6 separate regions of the Homo sapiens genome follow, and all the other regions are reported to be linked to region 1. The links are microRNA targets in miRTarBase. Many come from high-throughput screens and were not tested one by one. Region 1 holds a microRNA gene; each other region holds the end of a gene's coding sequence. Distances are from middle to middle.

Region 1 (4,091 bases):
GGTGGGAACTGAACAATGAGAACACATGGACACAGGAAGGGGAACATCACACACCGGGGACTGTTGTTGGGTGGGGGTAGCGGGGAGGGATAGCATTAGGAGATATACCTAATGCTAAATGATGAGTTAATGGGTGCAGCACACCAGCATGGCACATGTATACATATGTAACTAACCTGCACGTTGTGCACATGTACCCTAGAACTTAAAGTATAATAATAAAATTAAAAATAAATATATAAGTAGGGATACAAAAATATGACAAAAAAAAAACAACCAAACACAGACACATGCAAACAAAAAATACGCAAGGTGATATCAGAGTATTCTCTGTATTTAGAAGAGTATTTTGTGTGTACATGATTATATTATATATGATAAGAATATATAAAATATACATGATATATTTTTGAGACCCTGTCTCAAGGAAAGTTCCATACATCGCATACTCACAGGAAGAATAATTCCTACACAAGTTCTTGCTTTGGTAGTGCACATAAAAAAAATTGGAATGACAGAGATTACCGTGGCTGCTCCACAAAGGTGACACTCAAATTCACGACGGTCCCGTATTTATCTACGTATTTTTATTTGTTTTATTTATTTTTGAGACGGAATCTTGCTCTGTGGCCCAGGCTGGAATGCCATGGCTTCATTACAGCTCACTGAAATCGCCTCCTCCTGGGTTCAAGTGGTTCTCCTGTCTTGGCCTCCCGAGTAGCTGGAATCACAGATGTGCACCACCGCACCCAGCTAATTTTTGTAGTTTTAGTAGAGACAAGGCTTTGCCACGTTGGCCCCGTTGGTCTTGAACTCCTGACCTCAGGTGATCCTCCCGTCTTAGCCTCCTAAAGTGCTGGGATTACAGGCGTGTGCCGCTGTGCCTAGACTATTATTTACTTTGTTGACACTGAGACTCACTCAGTTGCCCAGGCTGGAATGCAGTGGCGCAATCTCAGCTCACTGAAAGCTCAGCCTCCTGGCTTCAAGCGAGTCTCCTGCCTCAGCCTCCCGAGTAGCTGGGATTACAGGTGTGTGCAACCAGGCCTGGCTGATTTTTGTATTTTTAGTATGGACGGGGTTTCACCATGTTGGCCAGGCCGGTCTCGAACAACTGACCTCAGGTGATCCTCCTGTCTCGGCCTCCCAAAGTGCTGGAATTATAGGCAGGAGCCACCATACCTGGACTAGTCCCATCATTAAAATTAGGGGGAAACAAAGATGCCCACACCTAAATAGCGTATCATTTATTGTTTAAGCACATCTCAAATACATTGTTTATCTAAAACACAAGTTTAACTGAGGGCCGGGACGAACCAAAAAATGGTCCTTACTTTCTTCCTGCCTGTGCATGGGTTAATATTTACATGTAGTCCCATCTAACAAGGCCTGGGAGGGGCAGAGGCAGGAGGATCTAAGACCACTTTAGCCAGGGCAGCATAGTGAGACCCCCGTCTCATGCATTTATCTCCTGGTCATGCACCCAAGATTTCAGCTTCATTTCCCCAATACACACTGAAGCCCCATGCACTCCACCTCCGTGCTCTTGCTCATCCCATCTGCAGGGACACTGAGGTCCCCTCAACTCCACCTGACCCCATGTGAGGTTCTATACCAGTGCCAGAAAAATTTCCATAAAGTAAGAGGTGTTGATGGCCACGCACCATGGCTCACGCCTTTGGGAGGCGCGCGGTGGTGGCTCATGCCTGTATTCTCAGCATTTTCGGAGGCCAAGGTGAGTGGCTCACTTGAGGTCAGGGGTTTGAGACCAGCCTGGCCAACATGGTAAGCCCCATCTCTACTGAAAAAAAAAAAAAAAAAAATTCAAAACGTAGCCAGGCGTGGTGGCGGCCACCTGTAGTTTCAGCTACTTCAGAGGCTGAGGCAGGAGAATTGCTTGAACCTGAGAGGCAGAGGTTGGAGTCAGTCGGGATCATGCCACCGCTCTCCAGCTGGGGAAACGAGACTCCATCTCAAAAATAAATAAATGAATAAAAAAGAAAAATACAAATATTAGCCAAGTGTGATGTCGGGCCCCTGCAATCCCAGCTATTCAGGAAGCTGAGGCAGGAGAATAGCTTGAACCCGCGAGGTGGAGATTGCAGTGAGCCAAGATCGTGCCACTGCACTCCAGCCTGGGTCACAGAGGAAGACTGTCCCAAAAAGGACCATATGAGCCCAAGAGACCTAGGTTGGAAGTGCCTCTGTACTCCAGCCTGGGCCACAGAGACCCTGTCTTAGAAAACAAAAACAAAACAGAACCCCAACATCATCCAAGTCTGATAATAAGCATGCAAATATATTACCAACATCAGCATCAACTTCAACACTGCTTTTCCCAAACGGTAACACTCTAAAGGGAAGCACTTTGTTTTTTCTCAGACAACAAACAGAAAGTGCTTCCTCTAGAGGGTCACAGCATGGGATCTTCTTGCTCCAGCACTCTGGGTTTCTTGTTGGAATTTTCCTTGACCAGGTTAAAACGGATACAAAAATAAAAATGCATTTATTGGCCCTGTTTACATGTTTTATGGAATCCAGAACATAAACCCCTGAAAGGACCATCTCCAATTCCTTGCTTCAAAGGCTCAGCAGGTTAGCCTTGTTCATCAAGGGGCGATCGTCCTGAGTTTTGTCCCCAAAGAGAAAAAGGAATACCTACTACTCATACCTTACATTTAGCTAAGAGAATTGGGCTGATGTTGAAGAATATACATTGTCTCACACACAAACATCCTCCAGGATAGACCAGAGTCTAGGCTGACTCTAGAGGACCACGTGAGATTAGGGGCGGTGGCTCACGCCTGTAATCCCAGCACTTTAGGAGGCCAAGGCTGGTGGATCACCTGAGGTCGGGAGTTTGAGACCAGCCTGCCCAACATGGTGAAACCCAGTCTCTATTCAAAACACAAAAATTAGCTGGGTGGGGCAGTAGGCACCTGTAATCCCAGCTACCCAGGAGGCTGCGGCAGGAGAATCGCTTGAACCCAGGAGGTGGAGGTTGCAGTGAGCCTAAATTGCAACACTGCACTCCAGCCTGGACATCAAGAGTGAAACTCCATCTCAACAACAACAACAACAATAAAAATAATAACTAGCAGGACACGATGGCGGGCATCTCTATTCCCAACTATTCGGCAGGCTGAGGTGGGAGAATCGCCGGAAGCTGGGAGGCGGAGTTTCCGGTCAACAGGGATCCTGCCGCTGCACTCCAGCCTGGGAAACGGAATGAGAGCGCATCTCAAAAAATCAAAAATAAAAAGATCACCACTTGAGCCCAAGAGATCTCGGTTGGAGGTGCCACCCACTCCCGCCTGGGCAACAGGGAACCTGTCTTGGAAAAAAACAAACCAAAGAGAACCCCAACATCATGCAAGTCTGATGATAAGCACGCTCTGCAAATGTATTACCAAGATCAGCAGCATCTTCAACGTTGCTTTTCTCAAACAGTAACACTCTAAAGGGATGCACGATCTTTTCTTAGACAACAGACAGTGCTTCCATCTAGAGGGTCACAGCATGAGGTCTTCTTGCTCCAGTACTGTAGGGTTCTTTTTTTTGTTTTTGTTTTTGTTTCTTTTTGACGGAGTCTTGCTCTGTTGCCGAGGCTAGAGTGCAATGGCACGATCTCGGCTCACTGCAAGCTCCGCCTCCTGGGTTCAAGCCATTCTCAAGCCTTAGCCTCCCGGGTAGCTGGGACTACAGGCACCCACCACCACGCCTCGCTAATTTTTTGTATTTTTAAATAGAGATGGGGTTTCACCGTGTTAGCCAGGATGGTCTCGATCTCCTGACCTCGTGATCCACCCGCCTCGGCCTTTCAAAGTGGTGGGATTACAGGCGTGAGCCACAGCGCCCAGCTTTTTTTTTTTTTTTTTTTTTTCAGACGGAATCTCACTCTGTCATCCTGGCTGGATGCTGTGGCACAATCTCGGCTCACTGCAGCCTCTGCCTCCCGGGTTCAAGCAATTCTCCTGCCTCAGCCTCCTAAGTAGCTGGGATTACAGGTGCCCACCACCACACTGGGCTAATTTTTGTTGTTATTGTATTTTTAGTAGAGACGGATTTTCACCACGTTGGTCAGACTGGTC
Region 2 (4,091 bases), not on the chromosome of region 1:
CTTTCTTTTTAAGAATGAAAGCTTTTTACATTTTGCTATAAAAAGAACTTGGTTCCAGTGACTCTGGAGGCTGAGGTGGGAGAATTGCTTGAGGCTAGGAGCTCAAGACCAGCCTGGGCAACATATCAAGACCCTGTCTCTAAGAAAATTAAAAAAAAAATTACCCAGACATGATGGCATATACCTGCAGTCCCAAGCTACTTGGGAGGCTGAGGTAGGAGGATCACTTGAGCCCAGGAATTCAAAGCTGCAGTGAACTATAATAGCACCACTACACTTTAGCCTGGGTGACAAAGTGATACCCTGTCTCTTATTTAAAAAACAAAAAGTGAGACCGTATCTCTTATTTAAAAAACAAAAAGTGAGACCCTATCTCTTATTTAAAAAACAAAAACAAAAAACGCTAACTTGGGACAAGTTCTTGGGAAATTTTATCCTAGTGTTGGTTCTGCCACTGACTTGCATCCTGTCCACATAGCTTCAGGCAATGGAATAAATAAGGTTTGAGGTTCCTTTTCAGCTCTAAAGCTTTCCTTAATTACTGCTTTTTTTTTTCTTAAGAGTTCCAGAAGACAGCGAACAGTGTGAGAGTCTCATTTCTATGCACAGTGTTTCTCAGGAGGATGGAGCTAGTTAGCTGTCTGTTGTCTGTAGCCCAGGTTTGTATGTGAGCTGGGTTTAGTATTGAATAAGGTTCTTATCTGTGTAATATTCAAAGGATTGATTTTCTATAATTAGTTGTTTGAGAGGCAATACAGCCTTAGAGGCTAAAGGGGCTAAAGCCTGGACTCCAGTTCCGTCTTCTCCACATACTAGCTGTGTGGCCCTGTGCAAGGTTCTTAATCTCTTGATGCTCCAGCTTTCTTATTTGTGAAATGGGATTACAGTAGAACCTCCCTTATGAGGGTGTTAAAATAGTAAATACTTGGTAAATATAAAGTATGTATAATAGTGCCTGACTCAAATGATCAGAAAGTTTTAACTCATTTTTATTCATGCTAAGGGTCATTTTATTTAATAATATGCTTTAGAAAAATATTTTTTCTCTGATGATAAAAGAAAAATGTAATATTCTGGTGTACAATATACTGGTTGGAAAATACTAGTCTTTATGTGTCTGTTTTACATAACTGGCACAGTGTTTATCCTCATTCTCTGACATTGCTTTGTCATTTAACAATGCTTCTGGAATTTTTTTCCATTTTTTCCATTTTAAGAAATAGTGTCTTTTATATGTCTTCGATGATAGAGTACATGACATTTAATATTTTGCTGAATGAAAGCTTGAATTAAATGTAACGTACAGATTTTGCAGGTACAAAAGTGATTATTTAGAATGAAAGATCACAAAAAACTACTAGAATTTTTCTAGTTTTTCTAAGACATCTTTAGGCAATTTATATTGAAGTGTTTCTTGATTGCTACTGAGTTTTCCCTCCCTATCTAGAACATTGTACAACTCCTGTCAGTTGTTAACACTTATATTAGGCTTGAAGGTTAAGTTTCATTATCCTCCTGGTAAACTTGCTTCTAACCTACAGCTAATGGTCCTGGTTTTCTGTTTTTCTTTAGTGTGCTGTTTTTAAATCTAGTTTATACCTGCACATGGTTTGAGCTCTAGTTCTCCAAGACTTTTTGTACAAGGCAGTTACCCCTGCCCTTCCCTGCCCTGCTCATCCTGCTTTCATTTTCTTCCCACTCTGAGGAAATTAAACTCTTAGCTGATTCTTTTGGTATTTTCCTTCTTGTCTCCCTAAGTATCATGCTTATGACTTGTGTTTCATGAGTTCTCGGTTTTAGGCATCTTCAGCTGACTTTCCCACTAAGATCAACGAGGACAGATTATTTTCAAGTTGACTCCTCCTCTGCTCCCACCTCATAGGCCTCCTGTCTCCATATCAGTTCTGCCTCCTCATCATCCCTGTGTAGTTGTTGCATAACTTTGGATAGATCTGTAGTCAGTGTTTATATTGTTGTCACTAAAAAATTGTTACTTATGACTGAGCTATGTAGGATTCGTCCTGGTATTTCCCTTATCCAGAGATTCTCTGTTACTACCCTTTTTGGAGAGTAAACCTTAAAGTCTTCTCCTGGGGTAGAGAAAAGGCACTTGGCCAACTGTGAAAAGTAAGAGAGGGCATCTGAGTGTCTGTCTGCTTTTTCTATAGACATTATACCAGTCTTCATGTTTTTAGTTGTTTCTTCACCCCTCCTTACAGAGATATCTGGTCCTGTTTTTCCATTGCTAACCAAGAGTTGGCTGTTATTTTCTCATCTCTCTACTTTTCTTTTTGTCCATGTGGTTTATTCCTTTTAAGAAAAAAATTCCAGGCTGGGCATAGTGACTCATGCCTGTAATCCTAGCATTTTGGGAGGCCAAGGAGGGAGGATAACTTGAGCTCAGGAGTTTGAGACTAGCCTGGGCAACATAGTGAGACCTTATTTCTGTTAAAAAATATATTTTTTTAACCCTTTGTTTCCTTTTTAGTGAGGTTTTGGAGAACAAGTGGAACTAAATATATGTTTATGTGCCATCTTTAAATTTAAAAAAACGTAAACACAATTACAGTAAGTCCTCACTTAACATCATCAGTAGGTTCTTATAAACTGTGACTTTAAGCAAAATTACAGCAAAACTTTTTTTTTTTGCATCAACATTATAACATAACAACACTGAACGAAAAAATGTTATTCGGGGACCTAAAGTCAGTTTCCTAGAACCTATGACATTAAGTGAGGACTTTGTATTCTTGAAAGCTTTTTAATGCTGTAATTTATGCATTATTTTTCTTGGGTATGCTGTGCATTGTTCTCGTACTCACACTTAAACCTACCCATATCCAGCAAGGTTTCAGTATTTTTAGAAGTGAGAGCTGTGTAAAGGAGAGAGTGAAGACTAGGGAGGATGGATTGCAATAGAGTAGAATAGACTGGGCAGGTGACTTTGTCTTTGCAGGAGTAATGGTGGAATATACCAGGAGTACAACTAACTGCTAATACACAGTCTTTAGTGTTGATGTCAGCTTTTGACATTGCTATAGAAGTCACATTCATAAGTTCTTAGTACTCCAAATTTGAGTATCCAGTTATTAAGTATGTATACAGTGAAAATAGGTATTTCAATTTTAAGATAATTTGCTTTTTAAAATGTAAACTATAGAAAACTAAAACTGTGAAATTATAATCTAATCACATTTCTGTGGTTTCTGTTTTTAGCTTGATAATGGAACTATACAGCGAAGAGACAATCTCTGGCAAGTTTTTGTAGAAAAAATGTTTCAGTGCCTAGTCTGAAAAATAACAGTTTGAGTTCTTTGAAACTCTAAAATATATTTTTCTCATACCTGTTTTCTTCATTTTCATAATGAAGCACTTTGCTATGTAGCTGTGTACATATCACTACAGTTATAGGAAGTTTCAGTCTACAGTCCATCCAAAGGACCAACCTGCCTTACACATCTCAAGGAATTCAGCTGTTGAAATCATTTGAACTAATCAAGGAATAAATCCTAATGTTCTGGGACTTTATTTTCACATGTTAAATGCTGGAATATATTATGAAAATGTTTTCAAGAAATCACTTAAGTGTTCATAGACCAGTATTTCTGACAGGTAAAATGCTAAAATAAGCTACCTGTAATAAGTGTGGATTATATTTTTGGGTTTTGTAGAATATTGCAAATTAACCACACAAAAAATGTTTAATTTATGCAACAAGCATGTTTGTGCAAATTTCATGGGACTTTAAAAAGAATAAGTATTTGAGAAAATATCTGGTTCACTTACACTACATTTACTGTATTATTCTTTTATAGCATTAGGTGCCTTGTATTTTAAATCTGTGACAAACCATGGCAAATTTTTAAAGGGGAAGTATTATTATAAAATGAAGAAATATGTATTTCTAAAGGCTATATTGCTGTAAACTTAATTGATAAAGCTCTGTTTAATTTAGAGTTTTGAAGAAATAGTCTCCCTTCAATTAAGAAATTTTCATAATGGAATGATTTAAATTGAAGTGACAAAGAGTATTATTAAAATACAATGTTTATACGTCTATTTGTGTATTGTAGATGTATCAAGTGATTTCT
Region 3 (4,091 bases), 32 Mb from region 1:
TATGAAGTCTCCCTAGTACTTACCAAAGCAAATTAGCTCACTCAATAGATTTACTTATGTCAATTATAAAAAGTGAAAGAAACAATAAAGAAAATTAGCCTTATACAGGTTTCTCCAATAAAACAAAAATCAAACGTTAAAATATAACAATATAACTATTATATAAAAACTAACTTATATAAAAATATAACTAATTTTGTAATTACATCTAAAAATTATTTTGTGTGCACTCTTAAATTTCATAAAAATCATTCTTATAATCCCTGACCAGCTCACATAATGAGTACTTCATAAAATACAAAACAAGAACATTATGGGTCTAGCATGAGTACCAGACAAGTAAAAACAGAGAATGTGCATAGGGAGATTCTGAACTATAAGCCCTAACATTTTATAGCAATGAATTCAATACAATGCACAGAGTATAGATTTGCTTTCAACATTTTCGAGGTTTTTAGTTTTCTAATAAGTCACCTTATTAAAATAATTTGTTTTGTTCCAATATTGCTTTCTCCTTCCAAAAATGGGTACAAACTCATACTCATACACACTTACTTCATAATTTTCTTACACCTAAGGTTTATCTTTAGAGTAATATATGTATATGTTTAACTCTATGTAAATCAAAACTAAAAGCCTATATGTGTTTGCAGGCAGAGATAAATCATGTTCAAAGAAAAATATGTAACAAATTCTTTAAATATTTATTCAGTACTTAGAAATGTATCAATTTTATTTATACTTCTATATAAATTTTATTATGACCATAAAAATGACCCTGTAGTCAGAACAATTGCAAATTTTAAAATAAAGTACTTTTAATATTTTAAAATAACAATATTTTTATTTTACTAATCAAATTGTTTGTAATAAAAAGGATAAATGCTAGAGGTGATGGATGCCTCATTTATCCTGATGTAACTATTATATATTATATGCCTGTACCAAAATATGCCATATATGGCATAAATATATACACATACTGTGTAACCACAAAATTAAAAAGAATAAATTTAAGAAAAAAAGGATAAAAATGTAACCTATGGGAAAAATATTTTTTAACTTATTTGCAATTTGAAGCCATTGGCAGAAGAGATTACTAGAGGTGTTATTCCACTATGTTGCCAAATAGCATATTGTTACCATATTTTACCTACACCCTTGAGTAAGGTGGGGTATGTTAAAGTTAGTGGAATAATAATACTCCACTGAATGCACAAGTCTTTTTTTTTTTTTTTTTTTTGAGACGAAGTCTTGCTCTTGTTGCCTAGGCTGGAGTGCAATGTCGTGATCTTGGCTCACTGCAACCTCTGCCTCCTGGGTACACGTGATTCTCTTGCCTCAATCTCCCAAATAGCTGGGATTTCAGGCACCCACCACCATGCCTGGCTAATTTTTTGTATTTTCAGTAGAGACAGGGTTTCACCATGTTGGCCAGGCTGGTTTCAAACTCCTGGCCTCAATTGATCCGCCCGCCTCAGCCTCCCAAAGTGTTGGGATTACAGGCGTGAGCTACTGTGCCCGGCCTGAACGTACAATAGTCTTAACGTGGTAAAAGAAAATATTTAATTATAAATTAAGTCCACAAATAATCTAAAAATTTTAAAATGTACTGCATTTTATTAAATAAAAGTACAATCACTAACATTATATGGTACTATTTTAATTTTAACTTACATTTAACTAAAATTAAAAATGTTTTTCTCTCATAACATGAGCAACTACTTCATACATCACTAAGTTAACCACAAAGAACCTCTTCACTTAGACTCTTATGCATCTTATATTTCAGTGTCCTTACTATTTTATAGAAGAGGTCGTATATAATTCCCACCTAATAAAGTATCTCTCATATCTCTGATGCAGCAATAGTTGATCACATGCTTTCACAGGTGAATACAATAGAAATGAAGAAACAGCATGAAGTAATTTGAGAGTTGACTTACATCATTATTTACTTTTAAAAAGCTTTATAATTTTATCAAAAAAGTATACTTGAATTTAATTATGACTTCTCAAAGAAATGTCTACTCATTTTAAAGTTACATAAAATTAATTTACTTACCAACTGTAGTTTTGGATTTTCTATACTCAGCAATCTGATTTAGTGTAATGTCTGAAGTGTCAGTGCCTTAGCTATTTCTACTGTTAATTCTCTGATAATTATATAAACTCAATTTGAATTAAATATTTCTTTGTATTTATTGCATCTGCAAAAGTATATTTTAGTATGAGCTCTCTGGCATTTTCTAAGCTATAGTTATGGAAAAAATGTTTTTCCAAATTAATCACACTTGCTGAATTCTTCTCCAACATAAATTTCCTAATGCTGAACAAAATTTTAGCAACTGCTTCAGGGTTATTCTCTAGTACAAAATGTGTACAATAAAATCTGTGATACAAGTAAAAGCACTACAAACCCCTTTATATTTGTAATGTTTGTCTTTAGAATGAACTCTTCTTCACTTTAAAGGTTTATATTTCTGAAAGATCATTTGACAGTAATTGTATTTATAATACTTTTATTAAGTATGAACTCTCTGATGTGTAATATGTGAGCAAATATTAATGACTTTTCCACATTCTTTATATTTGTACACCATTTCTCAACTATAAATGCTTTCCTGTACAATAAGTTGTGAACACTGGTTAAAAGTTATATTCTTCACACTTGGAGTTTTCTCCGGTATAAATTATTTTACCTGCAATCAAGTGTGAAAACCATTTAAAAGTTTTTCATGTTCTTTATATTTCTAGAGTTTCGCACTAGTATAATTTTTTTTTATGTTTAGAAAAGTTTGAGGTATTGTTAAAAGCACTGTGACATCATTCAGGATTGTAGTTTCGCTCCAGTATGAAACATCTTATATCTGTTAAGAATTGAGGACTTATTAAGGGCTTTGTGACATTCTTCACACTTTAGGATTTCTGTCCAGTATAAATTATGTGTAATAAGGGTTGAGAACTTTTAAAGGCCTTGTCACATTCTTCATATTTGTAGGCTTTATCTTCCACATGTGTTCTCATGTTTAGTAAGAGTTGAGAACTGGGAAGAGGCTATGCCACATTCATCACATTTCAAGAGTTTCTCTCCAGCATGAATTATTTTATGCTTAGTAAATGTTGAGGATTTGTTAAAAGCCAGGCCACGTTCTTCACATTTGTAGGGTTTCTCTATTATGAATTCCCTTATGTTTAGTAAGGATTGAGGAACAGTTAAAAGCTTTGACACATTCTTCACATTTGTAGGGTTTTTCTCCATTATGAATTATGTTTAGTAAGGTTTGAGGAATGGTTACAAGCTTTGCCACATTCTTCATATTTGTTGGGGTTCTCTCCAGCATGAATTCTCTTATGTACGGTAAGGTATGAGAAACGATTAAAAGGCTTGCCACATTCTTCACATTTGTAGGGTTTCTCTCCAGTATGAATTATCTTATGTTGAGAAAGGTGTGAAGACCGGTTAAAGGCTTTGCCACATTCTTCACATTTGTAGGGCTTCTCCCCAGTATGAATTATTTTATGTTGAGTAAGGTGTGAAGACTGGTTAAAGGCTTTGCCACACTCTTCACATTTGTAGGGTTTCTCTCCAGTATGAATTATCTTATGTCGAATAAGGTATGAAGACCGGTTAAAGGCTTTGCCACACTCTTCACATTTGTAGGGTTTCTCTCCAGTATGAATTATCTTATGCTGAGTAAGGGTAGTAAGAGCTGAGGACCAGTTAAAAGCTTTGCAATATTCATCACATTTGTAGGCCTTCTCTCTAGTATGAATTCTCTTATGTTTAGTAAGGTGTGAAGACCGGTTAAAGGCTTTTCCACACTCTTCACATTTGTAGGGTTTCTCTTTAGTATGAATTATCTTATGTTGAGTAAGGTGTGAAGACCGGTTAAAAGCTTTGCCACACTCTTCACATTGGAAGGGTTTCTCTCCAGTATGAATCATCTTATGTCGAGTAAGGGCTGAGGACTGGTTAAAGGCTTTGCCACACTCTTCACATTTGTAGGGTTTCTCTCCAGTATGAATTCTCTTATGTTGAGTAAGGGTAGTAAGAGCTGAGGACCACTTAAAGGCTTTGCAACATTCAT
Region 4 (4,091 bases), not on the chromosome of region 1:
CTCTGTACATTCTTGTTACTCCAGTTTTCCACAAAATGCTATTTTTGTTTCATTTTATTTTATTTTGTAGAGATGGGGTCTTGCTATGTTGTGCAGGCTGGTCTTGAACTCCTGGGCTCAAGCATTTCTCCCACCTTGGCCTCCCAAAGTGTTGGGTGGCATGAACCCCCACACCTGGCCAAAATGCTATTTTAAATACCAGGAACTGTGGCAGGAGTTTATGGTGCATGTTTGTGAGTCAGTGACTGAGGAAGTCATACCTTGATGCAGAAAGAATAGAAAGCACTGTGAGTTCCAGGTGTCCTTGGGGCAGGATAGGAGTGGGGCTAGGGGCTAACTGTGGCTCAGTGTGGCCCCCGGTGCGCCCGTTGTGATTTGTTTTGTTTGTTCTTAGTCTATTTGCGCAGCCGTGGCATTTTTCTACAGCAACTACCTTCTCCTTCACTGGCAACTCCTGGTCATGGTGATATTTGGGTTTTTTGGAACAATTTCTTTCTTCACTGTGGAATGGGAAGCTGCCGCCTTTGTAGCCCGCGGCTCTGACTACCGAAGTATCTGATCTGGTGTCCGTGAGGGGACACGTATGACCTCAGAAACACAGCTGGACACAGAGCTTGGTGGAAGAAGTCGCCTTTGATCTTCACTATATATTGGGTGATGTTCAGTATGGAAAATCAAGGGATTAAGACTGTTAAATCAGCCAGAGTTGGTGTTCAAGTTTACAGATATGAGTTATTTAAAGCAAGTAGAATAAGGGAAAGCTGTTCTGTCAACTGTAATTGTTCAAAGATGTTGTTTTTCATTTCATCTATCTCAATTCTTATAATCATGTTATAGAATGTAAATGTTTTCTTCTCTCTCCTGCTCTTGTTGGAAGATCCTGCCTTGATTTAGAATACTAGGCCATATGTCATATAAATATTTTTTCTGGATATGGAGTATGTTTTGCCATGTAATAATGGGAAGCATATGTCATTCCCCATATGTGTTGGAGAATGACATTTAAATAAATAGCAAAGCTGGGTGTGGTGTTGCACCGCTATACTCCCAGCTGTTGGGGAGGCTGAGACAGAAGGATCACTTCAGCCCAGGAGATTGAGGCTGCGGTGAGCTATGATCACACCACTGCACTCCAGGCTGGGCAACAGAGTGAGACCCTGTCTTGAAAATAATAATAGGCTGGTCACAGTGGCTCATGCCTGTAATCCCAACACTTTGGGAGGCTGAGGTGGGTGGATCACCTGAGGTCAGGAGTTTGAGACCAGCCTGGCCAACATGGTGAAACCTCATCTCTACTAAAAATACAAAAATGTGTTGGGTTTGGTGGTGCATGCCTGTAATCCTAGCTACTAGGGAGGCTGAGGTAAGAGAATTCGCTTGAACCTGGGAGGCGGAGGTTGCAGTGAGCCGAGATCGTGCCATTGCACTCCAGCCTGGATGACAAGAGTGAAACTCCATCTCAAAAAAAAAAAAAAAAAAAAGAAAAGAAAATAATAATGATAATTTTTTAAAATAATGAAAAATAAATAACAAGATGCTGAAATGAAATATTGATTTTGAAAAGATGTCTTCCTCTGTAAATGTTTCATTTGATAAGTTTTCTTACCTTGTAGCTCATAGCAAGGAGTGGCCAGTTAAGTATTATGAAATAAGGTAAAAATTGTCATAAGTCTTTTTTAAAATTTATTTATTATTTATTTATTTATTTAGAGACGGAGTCTCACTCTGTCGCCTAGGCTAGAGTGCAGTGGCGTGATCTCAGCTCACTGCAACCTCTGCCTCCCGGGTTCAAGCAATTCTCATTCTTTAGCCTCCCAACTAGCTAGGATTACAGGCATGTGCCACCACACCTGGCTAATTTTTGTATTTTTAGTAGAGATGGGGTTTCACCATGTTGGCCAGGCTGGTCTGGAACTCCTGACCTCAGGTGATTCACCTGCCTCGGCCTCCCAAAGTGCTGGGATTGCAGGGGTGAGCCACCATGCCCGGTCCTTTAAGTCTTAAGAACAGGGATCTAACATCTGTAACAACAAAAACATTGAAAAAGACAAACATATTTACTGAGGGAGGACTTTTGCTAGCAATTTTCCTGGAAGATGCAATGCAGAAACCCCCAAACAAACCTGGAATGAGATCTGAGCTGCGTCATCAGGCCAGTGTCACACCGTCATTTATGTGTCCTCCTCGAGCAGTGCAAGTCTATCATCCTGGGTGCGGGAATGGAACATAACTATTTGGGGAGATGTTAAATGGAAGTGTTAGCTTCCCTCCATAAGAGCTCACTTAAATTTTTTTTTTAAATTGAAATCAAATCCAGAAACCATAAAAATGTCCCATTTTAAAGTGTACATTCACAAGGTTGCATAACCACCACAATGATCTAATTCCAGGACATTTTATCACCCCAAAAAGTAGTCGCTGCCTGTCAGCAGTCATTCTTTCTCATCTGGCATGGCAACCACGAATCTACTTTCTGTCTCTATAGATTTGCTTATTTTGAACATTTCATGTAAATGAGACAGCTCAGTTTTGTTTTTTTTTTCTTTTCAAATTTTTAGTAGAGACAGAGTCTCCCTATGTTGCTCAGGCTGGTCTTGAACTCCTGGGCTTAAGTGATCTTCTTGCCATGGCCTCGCAAAGTGCTGGGGGGATTACAAACAAGAGCCACCGTGCCTAGGAAGAGCTCACTTTTGTTGTTGTTGTCTTTTGGTTGTTGTGTATGTGTTTTTTTTTTTTTTTCAAGACAGCGTCTCACTCTGTTGCCCAGGCTAGAGTGCAGTGGCGCAATCTTGGCTCACTGCAACCTCCGCCTCCCAGGTTAAAGCGATTCTCCTGCCTCAGCCTCCTGAGTAGCTGGGATTACAGGCATGCACCACCCCGCCTGGCTAATTTTTGTATTTTCAGTAGAGACGGGGTTTCACCATGTTGGTCAGGCTGGTCTCGAACTCTTGACCTCATGATCCGCCTGCCTCAGCCTCCCAAAGTGCTGGGATTACAGGCGTGAGCCACTGCGCCCAGCGGCTCCAGATTTTGAAGTTCTGGTTTTCCTTTTTGAAGCTGATATAACCTCCATTGGCTTAGTTGATCCTATATAAATAATTTACAAATGCCCTTTTAGACTTAACAGTAGTGATTTATTATCTCTTTAAGCACATTATTTATCAAGGTGTATTAGTTTTCTAATGTGCCATAACAAATTACCTCAAAACGTAGCCACTTAAAATAACACACATCTATTTCATCACAGTTTCTGTGGGTCGGGAATCTGCGCATGGCTGAGCTGAGTCCTGAGCGTCTCTCCAGGCTGCAGTCCATGTCTCTGCAGGCTGCAGTGAAGGTGTGTTCCAGGCTTCACTGGGGGAGGGCCTGCTTCCCTGCTCACTCGTATAGTTGTTGCAGGAGTCAGTTCCTCACAGACTGTCAGGCTAAGTAAGGATCTTGGTTTCTTATGGCTATTGGCTAAAGATCGCCCTCTGCCCTTCATCATGCTACGGAGTAGTCCTCAGGGCAGCCTACGACATGGCAGCTGTCTCCATCAAAGGTCACAAGCAAGGACAGCTGGAGAGAACGAGAGCAAGACAAAAGCCGCAGTCTCTCATAACTTCATCACTGTTGCACTCTGTCTGTTAGGTGCCAGTCACTAGTTCCAGCCTATTCTCAGGGAGGGAATTGGTGGGGAGCATCTTACAAGGCTGCCCACCTTGTCACCTGTCACACTGAGACTTACATGGAAGGTGACAACTGGGTCCTGTATTCCCAAGCCTCGCATTCTCCAGGCCCTTGCTCTGTTTGCTCATAATGGATCTGTACAACCCTGCTGGCAGAAGGAGGTGAAGCCACCTCTGTTAATGACACTGAGAATTTTAATCTGAGGAAGCCATGGCATCTTGTCACCCCTAGGATTCCTGGTGATTATTGTCAAAAGGGAAAGGAAATGAAGTGAAGTGCTGTGTGCAGTATGGCAGGAACCCAGCTTTTCCTAGGCTGCCTCCTACTGGCTTTGTGCTATGGTATTCATTTTCAGTTTCGTACTCACTTTTTTGTTAGAGACAGGGTCTTGCTTTGTTGCCCAGGCTGGATCACAGTGGCAC
Region 5 (4,091 bases), not on the chromosome of region 1:
GGCGTGAGCCACCGCGCCCGGCTCTTCTAGCTGCTGTTAAACAGCTTTTAAAACAATGTTGGGATTTTATTTGACTGTTTAAAAACAGTGAAACAGGCTGCTTAAATAAAACTTATTCTGAAAACATCTATGTGCTTTATAAATTGTTCTGTTCTTTGCTTTACTTTAAACTTCTAACTATTGTTTTTCATAGACTGCCATCAGTGAGAATTATCAGACAATGTCGGACACTACTTTCAAAGCCTTACGTCGACAGTTGCCAGTTACACGCACTAAGATTGATTGGAACAAGATCCTTAGCTACAAGATTGGCAAAGAGATGCAGAATGCATAAGATGAACATTGCATGACCGGATCATTTTAGTGTCTTTGCGTTAAAAAATCATTGCAAAAGTATTCTGAACTGTCAAGCTGCCCAGTCAGATGGGCTGTTGCCATTTAAAATCACTGTAATTAATTAGTTTGATTAGAGCACAAAGCTTAGCTAATCAACCATTATTTTTCATTTTGTTTGTTCTAAGAGGATTGAAAATCAGTTTAGTTTAAATGTCTTTCTGTTAGGCCTTTCTTTCTTACAATGAAGAGATGATTCTTCTAGTTTATGGTTAAAAGTTTTTGAAGTGTCTCAAAAATATTTTACTAACTGTAACCCTAAAATTGATGTCTTTTGGTTTATGAAATCAGTAATTTTTGATATTTCCCCAGTTCTTTTTAATGGGGTCAATAATGGACATTCTAGTTTAAGGTGGTTGATGGATTTAGCCATATATGCTGCTAAAGAAATTGTCTACCTTTTCTTCCTCACCTGTTCCATTTATGTAAAGTTGAGATTAGAGGGAAAGCATTTTCTATATCAATTGTGTTTAAACCTTTCAAGAAGGTTATTTAGCTAGCTTAGTGTTGAACTAAATTTTTTTTAAACAAGGCAAGGTCTAATGCTGTTTTGAGATTCTGAAATTAATGAAAATACTTATTTCAGAAATGCATTTAATGCTTTTTTTCTTGTGACAGTTACGCAAATCAGCTTGAATTCCATATGTCCCTGAGTTATTTTTATCATAAAGCCACAAATGTATTATAACAAGGCAAATTGTAATATATATAATCCTGAACTCATGACCATGTCTCGGTTTATTTTTTTTTTCTTGGATTGAAAAGTACTGAAATTCAATGTGACATTAAAATGCAAATTTTCCTATTTATTTGAGTAGAAAATCACTTACCAGTGAGCATATATATTTTAAAATACTTTCTTTGGATATTGTAATTCTTAACTGGTTGTAAATTAGAAAAGCTGGGATTACATATGGTGTGCGGTTACAGTCTAAATTTTTTCATCCTCCTATGCATCATAAGCATGTTTGTAATATTTTCAAAAATAGTTCTACTGATGCTACAGGAATTTCAAGCCTGTGGTGAATGTTAGTATTTACCATAGGGAGTGAAGTGGAGTTATGGTTTCATTCAATAGAGTATTGCTGATTATACTTGAGTGGAATCCTTTCCTCACGTACTCCCACAGACGTCTGGGCCTGGAAATTTTTTTTTTATTTTATTTTATTGTTTTTTTTTTTAGAAAAACACCACTTTTATTATGTACAATAAAATATTTCATTAGCTTGAATTGTATAGATTTTTAAAAATTCAATGAAAGCATGTTGTTTAATTTCTTTTTAAAATCACTGTTGGGCTTTGAAAGCATTGAGAATATAATATGAAATTATGACATTTTGTCTAAATCATCTTTTCTTTAGTTTTAAAATACAAGTTTTGGCACATTGGGATTCCTAAAGAAAATGAATTGGTAACATTAATTATCTGTTCCTTTTTAAAATATATATATTTGAAAGTTTGATGATGGTGAACTAAATACTAGATCTAATTGACAAGCTTAGTTGTATCAGTTAGGCCATCATGAGTTTCTATCCCATGAAAGTCATCAATTTCCTATCTCTGTTCTAGTCTGGAATGCATTACTGAAAATGTATGCAACTGTTTTTAAGGTGATTTGCTTGTGAGACGGAAGATTTATCAAAAATAATTTAGAACAGGCTGGGCGCGGTGGCTCACATCTGTAATCCCAGCACTTTGGGAGGCCGAGGCGGGTGGATCACGGGGTCAGGAGATTGAGACCACCCTGACTAACACAGTGAAACCCTGTCTCTACTAAAAATACAAAAAATTAGCCGGGTGTGGTGACAGGCGCTTGTAGTCCCAGCTACTCGGGAGGCTGAGGCAGGAGAATGGCGTGAACCCGGGAGGCGGAGCTCGCAGTGAGCCGAGATCGCGCCACTGCACTCCAGCCTGGGTGACAGAGCAAGACTCTGTCTCAAAAAATAATAATAATAATAATAATAATATAATTTAGAACAGTCTGAAATAATGATGGCACAGAATAGTCTTTTATAGTATAAGAATGGCATTTATTAGGCAGGGCACAGTGGCTCACACCTGTAATCCCAGCACTTTGGGAGGCCGAGGCGGGTGGATCACGAGGTCAGGAGTTCGAGACCAGCCTGACCAACATGCTGAAACCCCGTCTCTACTAAAAACAAAAAAAAATTAGCCGGGGATGGTGATGCGCGCCTGTAATCCCAACTACTCAGGAGGCTGAGACAGGAGAATCATTTGAACCCGGGAGGTGGAGGTTGCAGTGAGCAGAGATCGAGCCACTGTACTCCAGCCTGGGTGACACAGGGAGCCTCTGTCTCAAAATAATAATAATAATAAAAGAATGGCATTTATTAAAGTGAAAGAAGAATGGAAACCCAGAGTATCCTATAGCTCAGGGATGTAATTTTAGTAGGAGACATTATGGCTGCTTTGCTGAGTAGGCTGAAGTGTGGTGGCAAAGGCATAATCAGGGAGAACAGCTAGGAGACTACTGCAGTAATCTAGTTGAGAGAGCATGCTGGCTTGGACTGAGGTGGTTGCTGTAGAGGTGGTATAAAGCAGTGAGGTCTAGGTATATCCTAAAGGTAAAATCAGCAAGACCTGGGGAGAGTTTGGTCATGGAGTGTGAGATAAAGAGAACCATGTCTGGGGCTGGAGAAATTGAGGAAGATTCTTGTAGGAGCAAGTTGGTTTGGAGAAGAAGGCTGGTCAGGAGCTCAGTTTTCTATTCAAAGGAGAAATATCTCATGTAGCAGTTAGATACAGGAGACAGGAACTAGAGGAAAGCTCTGGGCTAGAAGAATGGGAAAGTGCATGAACCTGGAAACAATTTTATAGGCAGACAGGATGAAGGACCTCAAGGTTAGTGATAATGAATTTAAAGTAAATGAGACCAATGATGAGCATGGCTGTATGTTTTTCTTCAACCGTGTAAAGCTGTTTGGGTGCAGGCATAGAGTAGATGAAATAAATTTCACCAGGGCTGTGGTTTTGCCCAGAGTGAATGACCACATGAAGAGGGGCAGGGTATGATGATGGTCTGTGGAATTTCAGCTGGGTAAGCAGGGAAGTGAGGGCTTGAGACGGGGGGAGGGATAGTGAAAATGTACAACCAGTGGATTATAGGTGTGTTAAAGTAGGGGAACTAGAAAGAATGACCTGGAAATGTAAGAAGTGGGCCGGGCGCAGTGGCTCATGCCTGTAATCCCAGCACTTTAGGAGGCTGAGGTGGGTGGATCATGAGGTCCAGAGATCAAGACCATCCTGGCCAATATGGTGCAACCCCATCTCTACTAAAAATACAAAAATTAGCTGGGCGTGGTGGTGTGCCTGTAGTCCCAGCTACTAGGGAGGCTGAGGCAGGAGAATCGCTTGAACCCAGGATGCGAAGGTTGCAGTGAGCCGAGATTGTGCCACTGCACTCCAGGCTGGCGACAGAGCGAGACTCTGTCCCAAAAAAAAAAAAAAGTGGTGGGCTGGCCACGATGGCTCACGCCTATAATCCCAGCACTTTGGGAGGCCACGGCAAGTGGATCATTTAAGGTCAGGAGTTCAAGACCAGTCTGGCTAATATGATGAAACCCCTTCTGTATTAAAAATACAAATATTAGCCGGGCATGGTGGCACATGCCTGTAGTCCCAGCTACTCAGGAGGCTGAGGCAGGAGAATCTTTGAACCCAGGAAGTGACAGTTACAA
Region 6 (4,091 bases), not on the chromosome of region 1:
AGAAAAGTAAAAGCAGTGCTTTTCGATCCATCCCAGCAATAAATGATACTATGATATTACACATACAGATGCCTAAAAAGCATACTATAAAAGGAAAATTCCTGAAATGCCTCCAAAATCCTATTATGCATACTAGACTTTATCATCAGTACTTATATTCTTCAAAATGTACCTAATACAGTCACATGCTCATTAAAAGAGTTGATACAGTTTTGATGGCAGGCTACAGTTCCCTGCTGTCTTTCCATGATGCATCAGCAGAACCATTCAAAGCCACACACACCAAACCTATTAAGAAAAAAGCATTCATAATTCCCAGCTGTGTCCTCTACATTTTCCAAACAATATTAATTTCACATGTATTTATCAATATTATATATTTAGTGGGAATTAACATTAAAATCAACATATTGTTCTTAAGTAATCCAGACTAATAAACCATGAGTCAAACAAATCTACTCTGCGAAAACCTCAAATCACTCTGTGTGATAAATTATTTTAATAACATAAAGCTATAAATTTTCTCTATTTTTATATCCAAGACTAAATACCATTGACTATCCTTCAAAATGTTTATGTTCCAAAATCCTGTAGTTACACATAAACCCACAACAAAAGACATTACTTTAGAATGGTAGAAAAAAATATTTTTAAAAATTGTCAATTCTTAAAATTGGTTAAGTAATTAAAACCATTAAATCATAACACTGACCTAACAGGACAAGAAGTTTCTTTTGGTAATCTTTATTAGTATATGATCATCCTCAAGGGTCTCACTTGCTAGCCTTTTAAACAAATTTCTAAGGCAAATTTACAGTTCATTTAAAAGGTAATAAATACCACACACTCCTACAACCTTAGCCACTTTACAAAACAAAGGAAAAATTTCTTCCAAATGTTATTATAATTAAGAGCTTTTCTATATTAATTCCTCTTACAGTCTCCCAGTGTGTCTTAGATTGCCAAGTACATCTTGATTGTGACATGCAAAATGGATTCTGCTTTAGAAATGGGTTAATTGGCATGCAGATTTCTGCAGAGATCCATAATCCCACAAACAAGAGGGGAAATGAACATTATAGGGCTGACTCTGACAACATGTACTTGGCAGGGGAAGGCGGCAGGGGGTTGGCAACTTCACAATGGTGGATTTGGGGGAAGGAAACAGGACAAGAGACTGAGGTACCCAGACCCTCATCCTGCCAACAGCATTCACGTAGTTACTAGCTTCCATGTATAATAAGACACATTTTCAAAATGGAAAGGAGGTTATCAGAGAGACGGATTCAGATCATCAGTTACCATTAGACTACAGTTTCATTCAATTTAATCTTTAACCATTAAAAATTTTTAAAGACTATATTTCAAGGTAATAGTTCATTTCAAATTTAACAAATTACAAATGCACTAATTTGTATGTATGTGTATGTTCTCTATGTGTCATCTTAAAGCATTTTAAACATTTTTGATAATTAAAATGCAACAGCCATGTTGAAATTAATGTTTACATAAACTGTCAGTGACTTTATTGGCCAAGAAAAGGTAGCTCAAAGCTTTAACTTTATATGAGCTTGATAAAAGCCTTTCAGGGCATGTTTGAGAAATGTGCTCTACTATAAAAGTAACTATTTTAATATACAGCCAAGGTCAATTATTAATATTTTTCTTTTTTTTTTTTTTTTTGAGATGGAGTCTTGCTCTGTTGCCCAGGCTGGAGCAGTGGTGCGCTCTCGGCACTGCAACCTCTGTCTGCCAGTTTCAAGTAGTTCTCCTGCCCAGCCTCCCGAGTAGCTGGGACTACAAGTACCCACCACCACACCTGGCTAATTTTTTGTATTTTTAGTAGAGACAGGGTTTCATCATGTTGGCCAGGCTGGTCTCAAGCTCCTGACCTCAAGTGATCTGCCCGTCTCAGCCTCCCAAAGTGCTGGGATTAGCGGCATGAGCCACCACATGGCCAATACTTTATAAGCAAAGTTTAAACAACTAATTTAATATTTGATAAGGTTTTGGTTTGCCTATATATACTGGGGTAAAGTATGACACAAATTATTAAGCTTGACAAAATAAAAGTAGACTTTACCTGACCACCTTTCTATATTCTTCAGTGAATTCATCAAACAGCATTTTCAACAAAGCTTTGGATCCAGTACTTTGAAGTGAAACAGTGACCTAAAGCCTCACGTCACTTTGGTGAAAGCGGAACATAAATGACTTTTCAACTTCAGAGTTCATATTTGTTAGAGTAGAGAATACGAGGAATGAATAAAGTTATCCTTGTTAGTATTAAAAGCCCTAATTGGAAGAGAAAAGTCTCCAATTAGTTGACCCTATTTATTAACCAAAAGCTTCACAGAAAAACAACTAAAAAAGATATTATGCTTTAAAAAATGGGATATATATTTGGATAATTTGCAACCTATAATCCTAAAAGAACTGCCAGAATGCAAAGATCTTTTTAATATTATTATTTCTGGTGAAATCAAACTCAAAATATAATACCTAGGACTCCTTGTCCAAAGAAGAAATTAAACTAGATAATTTCTTTTCTGAAATAGTCTGCAAATTATAATTCACAAGAAGTACACAAAATAGGGTAAATAAAAGTGTGTATACATGAAAAGCTACAATAATTCCAATTTTTGCTTCCCTGGCAAGGTACTGTACATATACATCAACATAATAGAAATGGCACAGTCTCTGAGGACACGTTTCACATTTTATTTACATTTTAAGACTAACTTTAATCTCAAAATCACATATCCATACACCTATTTCCTTTTTGTTGACTTCACTTAAACTTAAATGCATGGTTTGTTAAACAAAGACTGTAAACAAATATTTACCATGTCTGTTACATGTAACACACAAGAACAGCTTTTAACAGGAATTCATCAACTCCCCCCAACATTTTTTATTATAAATACAGGTATCAAAACAATCCTGAACATATTTTTGATACTACTAGTAGTCAGCACCCACATTGCTTCAAAAATTAACACATCTGTGACAATATTCATTGTACCTGCTACTTTTTAAACAATTTCAACTGCAGCTCTCTTTCACTAAGTAAGATGGGTAAAGCATGCCATTTCTGTTTTCTTGAGATTTTTACTTTTTAGAAACACACATGCTTCCACTGCCATCTGACACTTCTCCACACGCTTTCATCTTGTAAACCTGAATTCTATTTCGAGTACTCCAGGTTTATGTTTAAATGACAGTGCCTTTCAAGAGAAAAAAAATTGTGCTGCATTTTTCCTCCTGTTACCTGAAAACATAATGGGTGTACATATATTAAATATATTCTTACAAATGTCCAGGTCATGTTTACCAGCTGGAATTCTTTTACTTAATGTGTATTTTGCATTGTGATATTTAATCAAGACATTAACATGAGTAGAAGGTTGTTGATTTAAGACAAGTTTGAGATCCACTAAAATTAATTGTTGTATGTTTGTCCTTCTGGTGGCTGTGGAAGCTTCATATTTTCTTTGGACATCATTAGACGTCTTAGCTCTTGAAGTACAACTTTAATGCTATATGAATTTTGCCATTTTGCTAACACTGGTATGCTCCGGGCATCCACCTGAAAGGGGAGGAAAGAGTACAGTTAACTAGCAAGTTTAAAGTACTATGGCACCAATTTGTTAAGCATATTTTAATAAGAATGATTTTGAAAATTCATAGCTTGCCTCTATTTTCACAAAACATACACTATGGAATTACTAATACCATAATTAGTATATTTTATCATAATTAGTTTAATATTTTGGGAAAATATAAAGACATAAAACATACAGTGAACTTTGGTCATCAGAAATAAATGTTATATTAAATAACTACTTTGTCAATAAATTTACCAATTCTTTCTTAATGGAGTAAGGTCAAAAGGTTCCTCTCCATTTCCAATGCCACCGCCCAAAATCTGGGGAATTATCTCACACTGAGATTTAGACAAAAGCTACTAACCTGATCTCTTCTTTCAGATTTTTCTTTCCAATGTATTCTACGCACTATTCCTAATTATTCTTTCCTTTTTTTTTTTTTTTTTTTTTTTTGAGACAGAGTCTCACTCTGTCACCCAGGCT

What was found. The annotated mature microRNA hsa-miR-520g-3p reads ACAAAGUGCUUCCCUUUAGAGUGU and lies in region 1 at 2,349-2,372, opposite strand. An mRNA with a match to its seed (bases 2 to 7 or 8) in the 3' UTR can be bound and repressed. Matches are read on the target gene's strand: a 7mer-m8 pairs with bases 2 to 8, a 7mer-A1 pairs with bases 2 to 7 and ends in A, and an 8mer does both.
Region 2: the mRNA of SLC35F5 is a reported target of hsa-miR-520g-3p. Seed matches in the 3' UTR shown: 7mer-m8 at 3,371-3,377.
Region 3: miRTarBase lists ZNF257 as a target of hsa-miR-520g-3p. Seed matches in the 3' UTR shown: 7mer-m8 at 1,487-1,493.
Region 4: the mRNA of MFSD11 is a reported target of hsa-miR-520g-3p. Seed matches in the 3' UTR shown: 7mer-m8 at 1,212-1,218.
Region 5: the mRNA of CAPZA2 is a reported target of hsa-miR-520g-3p. Seed matches in the 3' UTR shown: 7mer-m8 at 2,085-2,091, 7mer-m8 at 2,464-2,470 and 7mer-m8 at 3,902-3,908.
Region 6: miRTarBase lists UBE2V2 as a target of hsa-miR-520g-3p. Seed matches in the 3' UTR shown: 7mer-m8 at 1,921-1,927.

Annotation. Positions count from the first base shown.
Region 1 is chr19:53,720,501-53,724,591 of GRCh38, reverse strand. MIR520G (microRNA 520g) reads right to left here and starts at 2,426; the gene lies at 2,337-2,426. It overlaps MIR517B (microRNA 517b), which reads right to left and starts at 3,516; the gene lies at 3,450-3,516.
Region 2 is chr2:113,714,321-113,718,411 of GRCh38, reverse strand. SLC35F5 (solute carrier family 35 member F5) reads left to right here. Exons shown (of 16, transcript NM_025181.5): 15 at 562-659; 16 at 3,217-4,091. The coding sequence ends at 637. Among named protein-coding and RNA genes, the nearest start is that of MIR4782, 5.0 kb to the left of the region's middle.
Region 3 is chr19:22,088,613-22,092,703 of GRCh38, reverse strand. It overlaps ZNF257 (zinc finger protein 257), which reads right to left. Exons shown (of 4, transcript NM_033468.4): 4 at 1,224-4,091. The coding sequence ends at 3,262. Among named protein-coding and RNA genes, the nearest start is that of ZNF257, 38 kb to the right of the region's middle.
Region 4 is chr17:76,777,794-76,781,884 of GRCh38, forward strand. MFSD11 (major facilitator superfamily domain containing 11) reads left to right here. Exons shown (of 13, transcript NM_001242532.5): 13 at 395-1,548. The coding sequence ends at 559. Among named protein-coding and RNA genes, the nearest start is that of LINC02080, 19 kb to the right of the region's middle.
Region 5 is chr7:116,917,534-116,921,624 of GRCh38, forward strand. It overlaps CAPZA2 (capping actin protein of muscle Z-line subunit alpha 2), which reads left to right. Exons shown (of 10, transcript NM_006136.3): 10 at 194-4,091. The coding sequence ends at 334. Among named protein-coding and RNA genes, the nearest start is that of ST7, 34 kb to the right of the region's middle. RefSeq lists a silencer at 697-1,411.
Region 6 is chr8:48,060,180-48,064,270 of GRCh38, reverse strand. It overlaps UBE2V2 (ubiquitin conjugating enzyme E2 V2), which reads right to left. Exons shown (of 4, transcript NM_003350.3): 4 at 1-3,589. The coding sequence ends at 3,443. Among named protein-coding and RNA genes, the nearest start is that of UBE2V2, 54 kb to the right of the region's middle.